Linked DNA regions of Homo sapiens: region 1 is linked to region 2. The links come from fine-mapping of genetic effects on gene expression. A gene starts in region 2. The other region holds a variant in brackets. All regions are shown on one strand. Distances are between the middles of the regions.

The links.
Region 1: its variant is fine-mapped to the expression of MOCS2 in neutrophils (BLUEPRINT, PIP 0.90).

Annotation. Positions count from the first base shown.
Region 1 is chr5:52,920,279-52,925,663 of GRCh38, reverse strand. ITGA1 (integrin subunit alpha 1) reads right to left here. Exons shown (of 29, transcript NM_181501.2): 17 at 5,196-5,332; 18 at 2,777-2,887; 19 at 177-386. Among named protein-coding and RNA genes, the nearest start is that of ITGA2, 66 kb to the left of the region's middle. The variant T/C (reference allele first, on the strand shown) is at 3,161.
Region 2 is chr5:53,107,539-53,112,923 of GRCh38, reverse strand. MOCS2 (molybdenum cofactor synthesis 2) reads left to right here and starts at 3,167. Exons shown (of 7, transcript NM_004531.5): 1 at 3,167-3,673; 2 at 4,281-4,402. MOCS2-DT (MOCS2 divergent transcript) reads right to left here and starts at 3,082. Exons shown (of 2, transcript NR_104654.1): 1 at 2,776-3,082. RefSeq lists a silencer at 3,139-3,428.

The DNA.
Region 1 (5,385 bases), 190 kb after region 2:
ATAAAACAAAACTTTTTTAAAAAGCTTAATACTTTCACCATTGGTGAGGACTAATGTAAAAAATTCCTTCTATTCTTTCAAAATCAATCTAATAAAAGCAATTATCTCAGTAGCATGAAAAGTAGGCCAGGTAAATGATGTTAAGAGAACAAATAAATGAAAAACTGGAAGTTTACCTCAATTCCTGAAAAAACTAGATTTGGAGAATAATGCACTATTGTCCTGGTGTTATAGGCACTGTCCTTTGTATTTTTGACTGTGAGGCTAACGTTGAACTTATCATTCTGGGATCGGACAATCAGCAGGTCCTTTTCAGTGGTGGCGACATGCAGGCTGAGGTCTGAGATACATTTTTCCTTATTTCCACAATCTTTGGCAAAGGGAATCTGAAATGATGACAGGAAAGAATTTTTCAAAATTTAGCTACGCATTGTTGAAAATTACCCATCAATTTGTGTAACAAAAATGGCATACAGCCAAAGTAAGTTAAGCAACTCATAAGGAGAATTTCCCTGCAAAAATCTTAAGGGATTTTATATTTATCCCTGTAATTTATAGGGGAGAAGAGTAAACATTTACTTACAAATGTAAATTGTGCTTGTCCTTTTAAGAACGCACAATTTTCATGGGTGCTTTGCACTGGCTTTTGTCTGCCAGGGAAGGACAGTTTTGAAATACAAAGTCAAGTACTGCAAGATCTAAATCTACTCAACTCTAATCATGAGATTTTTCTCTTAAAATTAATCAAATACTTAGGAATATCATAAAGCTCAGTTGAGAGGGTGGAAAACGGTCAAGCCACAAATCTAGGAGTTTTGCTTGATTCTTCTTCATTGACCGCCTCTCCACCACCACCATATGTAACTCACCAAGCCCTGTCCATTCTACTCCTCTTCTAAATATCTCTCCAATCCTTTCTTGCTTCTGCAGTCCCACCACCACCTCACACCCAAGCATTCTCATTTCCTCCCTGAACTAAAGTAATAGCTTCCCACGGGGCTCCCACATCCACCTGTTTCCCTCCAACCACTCTTCACTCTGCTGCATCCTGTCGTGTGGCTGAACCAAATAAAAACCTTCAAAAGCACTGCACTGCTCTTTCAAAAGTTTAGAATTTGTGCAGTGGCACCAAGTCCCGAATGACCCGGCCCCTGCCTTTACCTCCGGCCTCACCTCACGTCACCTCCTTTCTTGCTCTTTAGCGTCAGCCACACTAGCGAATGTCGTTGTTTCCTTCATGCTCAGGACTTTCACACTTAGCATCCCCTCTGCTCCCCAAACTCCCCTAAATAGGGTGGAAATCACCCTATCCTTCAGGGCTCCACTGAAATGGCACAACTTCAGGAGGGCTGTCCTGACTTCTCAGCCTAGGTGGAAGTTCCTAGAGAGCTCTGAAATCCTCCTCCATAGCATATGCTCTAATTACTACTTAATACCTGTTTCCAGTGTTAGACTGTAAGCTCCAATGCCTGGTATGTATAAGACAATCAATATATCTGGTAGGAAGGAAGGGAGAATGGAAGATAGGTGTATGGGGAAAAAGAATTCCCCATCCCTCATATCTCTTCCATTGGAGCCACGCTAGTGACACCCTCCCTCTTCTCTCCCCTCACTCCACTCTCAGGGGTGGCACATGGACTCTAACTTTGGGAACAGGAACTAAGTGAACACAACTCAGTCCCTTTCTCTCATTTCTATTCTCAGAGCAGCTGTACCCACAGGAAGCACACATTTGGCTCTACTCCATTTGACAAGTTTTACAAGGTGGGCTCCATGAAGAAGGACAGAGATGGATCAGCACTGCTGATGACCTAGGTGGTTACTGGTGGTCTAAGTCCATGCTTCAGCGTGAGGACACCCTTTATACCTAAACCATACACTGCAATCCAGTGCTTATTAGAATAATGGGGGAGATTTCTTTCCATTGGTCCTAAATTCAAATGAGGTAAAAATGAGTGTCATTTATTAGTTTTCTTAAACTCCAACAATAGGAAATTAGAAGGATTGGAAAAAGTCTAGAAGAGCCTAATTCTTTTTTAAAACATTTTAAATTGATTTAGGGTTATGTGTGCATGGGTTTCAAGCTTTTTCCTAATGTTACCAGGGCAAACCTGGAGATATGGCTGAGAAAGTTTACTATTTTCTTGAAGAGTAGATAACTGAGAAAGTTCATTATTTTGTTAAACAGTAGATAGCTGAGAAAGTGCATTATTTTTTCTTAAACAGTTTTTTTTTTTCTAGTCTATTTATCTGTAGGTAAGCTTGCTGAAAAACAACTATAGACGGCCTGGGAGCTTCAGGACCCTTTGCCAATTACCAGAGGAAGATAAAGCCATTGAGAAAACGGAGCAAACAAGAACCAGCAACCCCTTGTTACCTTTAGATCATTAACATGTCATTATAATGCTAAAGTCCCTGCCATAGAAGAAAATGGCCACCATTTCTTGAACATATGTTGTATAAGGAAGCATGTTTATGAGCTGTACTTGTACATCTGGAGTTCCTCTCTGGACATGCTTACATATACCTCCCTGCCCCACATCTAACTCCTTAAAATTCCCCAGGTTTTCACAGCTTGAAGAGAAGGTCTTTAGAGCAAGAGCTCCCTCTTTCTCCATTCCTGACCAGGAATAAAATCTGCTTGCCTTTTTTTTCTTTCTTCCAGTTAGTTGTTCGTTCTTTGTGATCAATGCAGAGTAGTGAAAAAACACAGTTTACTAGTGACATTAAAATGTTCACAAGTTGGTATTTTGTATTTTAAAGAAATCTGACTTACATATTCATGTACTGAGTTTGGTAGAGAATCATCAAGAACAGGCCCATTTTCTGGATCGGTAAGATTAAAGTCCAACGTTATTCTCACAGAGTCCTGAAAGTCATGCTTGTCCTAGAGGGTGAAACATAAAATATATCACTGGTATCATATTTACCGGGTGTTCTGATCTTGTTATGTCTCCTTCTTCTGTTCCCAAGGGTCAGGCTTACTGCAGCATTCTTGTGCATCTAATCTGACATATGATCTCATCAGGCTTTTGCTTCCCTGGAGAGGGATTGGCATTCTGACAAGGGGCATAGGGGAATGTGGAGGTTTCAGAGTATGACCTGTTGACTCACTTCCAGTTCCTCAGAGGGCCCTGCTGGAGTGATGGCAACATCACAC[T/C]TGGCTGTGTCAACATAGGAGCTACCTGCATCACAATATAGTTTTTCTTGAGACCTCAAGCCAAAGATCATTATGTAACACTTCCGGGAACATTTCCCAACTTCAGAAGGGCAAACTTTCTATAAAATGAGTTACATTTCATTAATATAATATATACCTACAGCTATAAGTTTTTGTTTGTTTGTTTGTTTGTTTGTTTGTTTGAGACAGAGTCTCTCTCTGTCACCCAGGCTGGAGTACAGCGGCACGATCTCGGCTCACTGCAACCTCCACTTCCCAGGTTCAAGTGATTCTCCTGCCTCAGCCTCCCGACTAGCTGGGATTACAGGCATGTGCCACCACACCCAGCTAATTTTTGTGTTTTTAGTAGAGACGGGGTTTCACCACGTTGGCCAGGCTGGTCTCGAACTCCTGACCTCAGGTGATCCACTCACCTCAGCCTCCCAAAGTGCTGGGATTACAGGCGTGAGCCACCATGCCTGGCCAAGAATTTTATAATGTAAAATTATTTGGAAAGGATGTGAATATGATTAATACTGTTAACATGCCACCAATAACAATAATCATTTATAGTATTCAAAATTATGAGCTTTATATACATTATTGCAAATTATTTCAACAGTCCTCTAAGATGAGTAACTATTATTGTCCTTATTTTACAGATGAAAGATTGACCCTCTAAGAGACCAAACGACGTTGCCAAAGTCTCTCAGAATGTGGAATATTTGGGATACAAATTCTACACTGGCTGACTCCAGAACAAATTTCAAAGTGCTTCTTTCAAAATCCAAAACAATTTTCGAAATTTTGAAAATATTTCAGTCCTTTAAACACCAGTACCTGGACATAACTTAGACACTGAATTTGTGGACAAACATAGACTGAGATGATTTTTAGCAGGTTGGAGACAATGCCATATCTGGTTTCATACCCATTCAAATTTTATCCACATTCTAATTCCTAAGTGTTCAGTTCTGATTAACTAAATAGGAGGGGCAACTCCAGTGTTATTTTACCAAATAATAGATTGATCTTGGTCCTGACAGAATAAGCTTCATGATAAGTATCATGAAGCATATCAACATGAAAATCACTGAGGAAGAACAAATGTGGCACAAAAGGGTGCACATTTTCTGTCACTCCCCTGCCCCTGAACTACAATTTTCAAAATACAGACTATGAATATATCAATAATACAGAAATAAGTCAGAAGTAGGAAAATTGGCCTGGTTCCTTTAAAGCTCCAAGTTTACCGTCAAGTCTCTAAGTCTTAATGTCAGTTACTAAAATCAGTTTCCTCATTACCTTCATGCTGCTTCTTGTTTTTATCACTCTCATGTACATTTTAAGAAAATGTTTAGGAAACTCCTGCCCTCTGTTGGGAACATTCCCCATATACACAGTGTCCCAACAAAATACATTTTAAATGATTCACACTGGCTTACCAGCCATCTCTAAACATTAATAGTTTGATTTCCAAAACTCCCTCATCCACTAAAATTAAAAAAAAAAAAAACTGAAGTAGCACAAAGCCTACAGATGATAGAAAATACCAGATAATTTTCCCCTTCGCTCTAAAATCAAACGGCGAGATATGTAGTTACATGGATCCCAGAAAGCATACAGCCCAGCAGTCTGCCCCCAGAGCAGTTAATCACTTACCAACCACAACTGACAGACAAGGCCCACAGAAATTAAATGTTTTCAAGTTGAAGGAATAAATGAATGAGTGAAAGAAATGAAGACATGAATAAGGTTTCTTGTCAACTAGAACACTGTGTCTTTTCCTGCCGTTCCATAATATATGGATGTCTGATAATGCAGACAGGGAAGACTAGAGATAGTTTTACAAATATTTGGAAATGAGAAAATTAGACCTGCGATTTTATGATAAAAATGAACAAACAAGATTTCCTTTATGACATCATAAGTGCATTTTGAAATAAAACAGTAAGAATTTGATTGACTTGAAATAAGACATCTCTACTGTATTCTTGATTTGGAATAAGGCAGCAACGATATATGATTTACTTGCCAACATGTAGAAGGAGTGCTTAGTGCATTCTGATTTTCGAACTGTGATGTTCCTTTGAACCTTTCTCTCTTGAGTTCCAGAGAAAAAACTTCGTGATATTTGTCTTAGTGAATCTAGGGTGACACGGTACTGCAAATCTACAAAAATTTTAAAAAATAATTGATGGAAATGTTTATTTGAAGTGATTCTC
Region 2 (5,385 bases):
ACAAATTGTTCTTTGCTCATTTTAATTTGTCCAAAGTTTTTCTTTTGACACAATGAACTCTGATTCTGCCAGGTGTTTCTGGGAAAATTGTTTTTCAGAAAAGGCAATGAACATTTTTGATAATTTGCTACTACACGTGTGTCTGGAATTGGTTCCTTCCGGTGGGTTCTTAGTCTGACTTCAAGAATGAAGCCTCAGACCTTCGTGGTGAGTGTTACAGCTCTTCAAGGTGGCATGGACCCAAAAAGTAAGCAACCCTAAGATTTATTGTGAAAAGTGAAATAACAAAGCTTCCACAGCATGGAAGGTGATCCGAGTGGGTTGCCACTGCTGGCTAGGGGCGCCAGCTGTTATTCCCTTATTTGTCCCTGCCCACGTCCTGCTGATTGGTCCATTTTACAGGGTACTGATTGGTCCATTTTACAGAGTGCTGATTGGTGCATTTACAATCCTTTAGCTAGACACAGAGCGCTGACTGGTGTGTTTTTACAGAGTGCTGATTGGTGCACTTATAATCCTTTAGCTAGACAGAAAAGTTCTCCAAGTCCCCACTCGACCCAGGAAGTCCAGCTGGCTTCACCTCTCACAAGCAACGTTATGTTTCTCATCTTCTAACAGAGCGTTCTGTGAAGGTCTGAGATGCTCCTACATTTCTAGTCTCATGGAATCTCGTCTTTTTTCAATCTGAAAACAAAATGGAAATGTTTTTGCCTCAACTTGTTTTTTTTCTTAACCAAATAGGATTCCTTATGGTAAAAATAACTGGGAAAATGGTGGCTCCAACTATGTTTTCACAAAAAATTGTAGCTTAAGTGAAATGCAAATGTTCATAAAGTCATTTTGCTATTACTAAAATAATTTATATACCATTGTGATGATTCACTGATTTAATTAATGAATTCATAAGAAAAGTAAAATCAAAGCCTATGGAATAAGCCTGGAATATTTTGGTATCAGTTTTGCTTGCATATCCACAAATTATAGATGGGGCTGTATTTTGTAAAAAAAAAAAGAACTGTGTCATATCTACAGCATAATGAATAAACGATGTGAACAGAAACTTCACAGAGAAGTATAAGTGCTCAATGAAAATATGAAAAGATTCACCTCATTAGGAATTAGAAAATAAAAAAATGAAAGCAAGGCAATATTATTGACCTATATTTACTTGAATTTATCAACAAAATAACTGGTGAAACTGATAGGATTATAAATCATCAGATTATTGTTTATTTGTAAAAGATAGTTGCTCCTAAAATATTTTCTAAAATAAAGAAGATTATGAAAAATATTAAGAAACCTGAATTGATATTTTGTAACTATATGTTCCCACTTTGGACAGTTTCCATTTTTTTTTAATATTCTGATGTCATTTACATTTTATTTTATAATCATATCCCATAATTGATATCTTAGTTTTACGTTTGAATGGGTTAAAATCTCAATGCCAGTTTTTTTAGTTTTTCATTTTTCCCATATTAATACCTTTATTGCTGAGTTATTTACTTTGATTACTCTTGATTGAGTGGACTTTTTGCCCAAGAAAGATTTTTAAGAAGGGTTCTTGGGTATTGTGTTTTTTGAGTTTTTGCTGATTTAGGAGAATCCTGCCCCACCAGTTTGGCTGTAATATTATGGGATCATGCTTTTGTTCTCAGCCTTTTTTACACACTGCACATTGCCATCAGATGCCACTGAGGAGTCTAAGGCCACTATTGTCATTCCCTTGTTTTTATGCCTGGGTGTGAATATAGTCTTTATCCTTTATGTTTAGCAACTTTACCAGGATACACATTGGTATTCATTGCTCCTTGTCAATTTTTCCTACCAAGGACTCTCCAGCCTCACTTCTCATCACCTCCTTTGCTGGAGGCACACCTGCCTTGCCAACTACTTGCCCTTCTGTGAACTTATTATGCTTCTTCATATCCCTGTGGCTTGTCAGAGGCAAGTGAAATTTCTTCGTGCTCTACTCCCACTCTTGTCATTTACTGCCACCATTCTAGCAGATTTACCTTCTCAGCATCTTCTCACTCCCCAGGTGACACAACCACTTTCCCCTTCCACCCTTGAAATGTAACACAGATCCTTAGTATTACAGGGAATTATCATTCATATTTAAAACTCTCCTACCCAGGACTGTGAGCTCCAAGGAAAGGGACGTGTAACTTACATCCACTTAACGACGCAAGCAATTTAAAGCCAAGAGTTCTTGTTGGCAAGAATTGGGAAAGTTGGACGGACAGTATACAATTACCGAGCAGCCAATAAACAGGAAAAGTCATACAGTTCGAATGTTCTGACCAGGCGGATATTCTGTCTTTAAGAAACACTAATCATATACCTGGGAAAGAAAAAAATCTTGGGCCCCTTCAAACTGGGAATTACTCAGGGCAAATCTGCCTCCTATTCTATCCAAGTCACCTCTTTTGCTGACAAAGAATAGATGCATATTCTGATTGCCTCCTTTAGAAAGACTTATCAGAAACTCAAAAGAATGCTACTGTCTATTACCTACCTGGAAGCCCCCAGTTGGGGGGGGCGGGGCTTGCTTTTAACGGTCTCCGCCTTTCTGGAAGGAACTAATGTACTTTTTACATATTGATTGATGTCTCCTGTCTCCCCAAAATGTATAAAACCAAGCTGTGCCCTGACCACCTTGGGCACATGTCCTCAGGACTTCCTGAGGCTGTGTCACGGGCATGTCCTCAACGTTGGCAAAATAAACTTTCTAAGTTAACTGAGACCTGTCTCAAATTTTCGAGGTTCACATACCGTAGGTAAAAGTGTCAGAAGCCTAAAGGTGAGCCAGTGGAAAAGCCTGAAGACCCCTGCAAGGTTATTAGCTAAGCCTCCATAACGCAGGCGGCAAGTGTCCAGGAGTCTGGCGTCTGCTCGCCTGCACCACGACCTCCCTCCTGGGGAGAAGGACATGCATGGTAAGCCATTTCTCCATTTCCATACTGATTGCTTCCTCTCACCACCACGGCCCATCTGCGAAGCAAAACTAATCCTGGCGTGGAACAGGCCGCCTGAGGGAAACAGCTAGAGCCCGGCGCGGGGCGGAGCTGGTTGTGCGCATGCTCCGTGCAGGCGCAGGCGGGGGCTGAGCGCCGTCGGGTTACGCCTGCGCTCCGGGTGAGCCCGCGCCTGCGCCTTTGCGGCCGTGATTCGGTCCCGCTGTCCTAGGCGGGATGGTGCCGCTGTGCCAGGTAAGGGTGGCGGGTGTGCGTGCGGGCCTGGGTGCGGAGCCCTCCTCGACGTGTCTCTCCCGCCCTTTCCCTCCACATACCCAGCCTTGGTCAGTCGGACCTCCCCACTAGCCCCCAACCTGGCCGGCGTCTTGGGTTCGGGGGCGCCCCCGCCCCCGCCCCCGGGCCCTTCCTGTCTCCGGGCTTTACTGCGACTGCCCCAGCAGAAGTCGGGTCCTCTCCGAGAACTCTTGTCAGCTCACGGCAGCAAGGACGGACTCGTTCTGAAGGCGCCTCCACCTTTTATGACCACCTCTTTCCCAGATTATTCGTTTTGATGAAGCTAAAATTTTAATCTAAAAAGAAATGCACCTCATGGAGAATTCTTGTGAAGAACTGTGCTTCATCTGTGGATTTCTACACCCTTGATCATTTGCAAACCTGTAATTATTTCGTAAAGAGTTGTTTGCACGGAGTGACAGGTGCCTATTTTACTTCGTCGGATCCCTTACATACCAGGCTGCTGGCACAAGTTTGTTCTAGCAAATTCCAGTCTGTCGTGTGTTTCAAACCTACTTGCTTCTGTAAATGTCAGATTTACTATGTTGCATAACTTAATCCTTAGCGTCTGGGGACGATGTTATACAGACCGGAATCTAAGGTCATTTGACAACCGTGAGAAACAGGTTTTTCGCTTATTTATTCATTTATTTTATTTGTGTAACTCATCTCTTGACTCAAACATTTGTTCTTTGCTTACATATTTATAAAAGGTGCTATACTTTTATGTCAATTAAGGCAGGCTTAACATGTTTTCCTAGAAGATAAATACTTAGGATTTTAATGATGGCACACTTAAGTTTGTAAAACTAAAAGGCATCCAGAAATTAGTCTGAATTGTATTTAAAACAACAAGTTTTCAGAATTTGAACTTGTAGGTATACTGAAATTTTTTACGGGTTATTTAATTTTCTTTATAAAATTTGTCTTTGATTAAAGCAATACATTTGGAAAATGAGAAAACTGCTCAACATTGACAGTCAGAAAACGAGTATGAGTTGTTATTAAAAGCATTTTCTTTACTTTCAGGTTGAAGTATTGTATTTTGCAAAAAGTGCTGAAATAACAGGAGTTCGTTCAGAGACCATTTCTGTGCCTCAAGAAATAAAAGCGTTGCAGCTGTGGAAGGAGATAGAAACTCGACATCCTGGGTAGTTAAAAATTTGTAGAATGCATATGAGTAACACTTAGATATTTTCAAAATACATAAATGATAAAAGTAAAAAGGTTAATTTCGATTTCCGTGCTTAATGTCAAAAAGAATCGTTAGTTGTATTTTTTTTGGAACACCTGAAAAACTCTAAATGTGCACCGTATTTTAAGAAAGGTTAAAGATATTTTACCCCAAAACACAGTGAACCGCAGAGGGACATGATTATATTCTCTTTGATAATTTACAAAACACTGCACATGTCACTTCTGCAATTTTATAACATTAAATGAAATTGTTACAAATTCTGTTAAAAATGTGTGCTTTAAACATTTTGTTCTGCCCCTCTCTTTAGAGAGCTCAACATAGAAATTTCTAAGATTGAAAGAAAAATGAGTTACAACAAATCCTAGATGCTGCTGAATTTGAGTTTTTGTAATATTTAATTTTTTTTCTGGTTCTTGAAAAACCTATAATTTTACTTATGTCATTCCCACTTCAAGTTCTTTTTGGAACAAAATATAAAAGTGACTTATTTGAGGGTGATTCAGGAATATTAATGGTGTTACTTAGCTTGTATAGGTGTTTAACCTGGAAGTCCTAGTTCTGTGTAAAAGATACTCCATAATAAGTGTTTAAAAGCAAACCACTTCATGATTTCGTATCTTTTAAGTTGCTCTTACAGTGGCCTGATAATCAATAAAACACAGTGGGGTCTCCCATTCTGCTTTACCTGGAGGGAGACAGCAGGTCTTGTATACGTTTTCACTGTGCCTGAAAAGAAAGCTTACCATTGTTCAGGTATAAAGGAACAGCTAATAAAGCTGTGTTGCAGGTGGCTTTATGACCTATGCTATCTTTTTCATCTTTCTAAGCAACTTAATCCATATTCGAGTAGGATAATGTGTACAGGCATAGTTTGTGGGCAGTTATACTTGTGCTTGAACACATGGATAGAAGGACCCTGGAAAGGCCATGTACTGA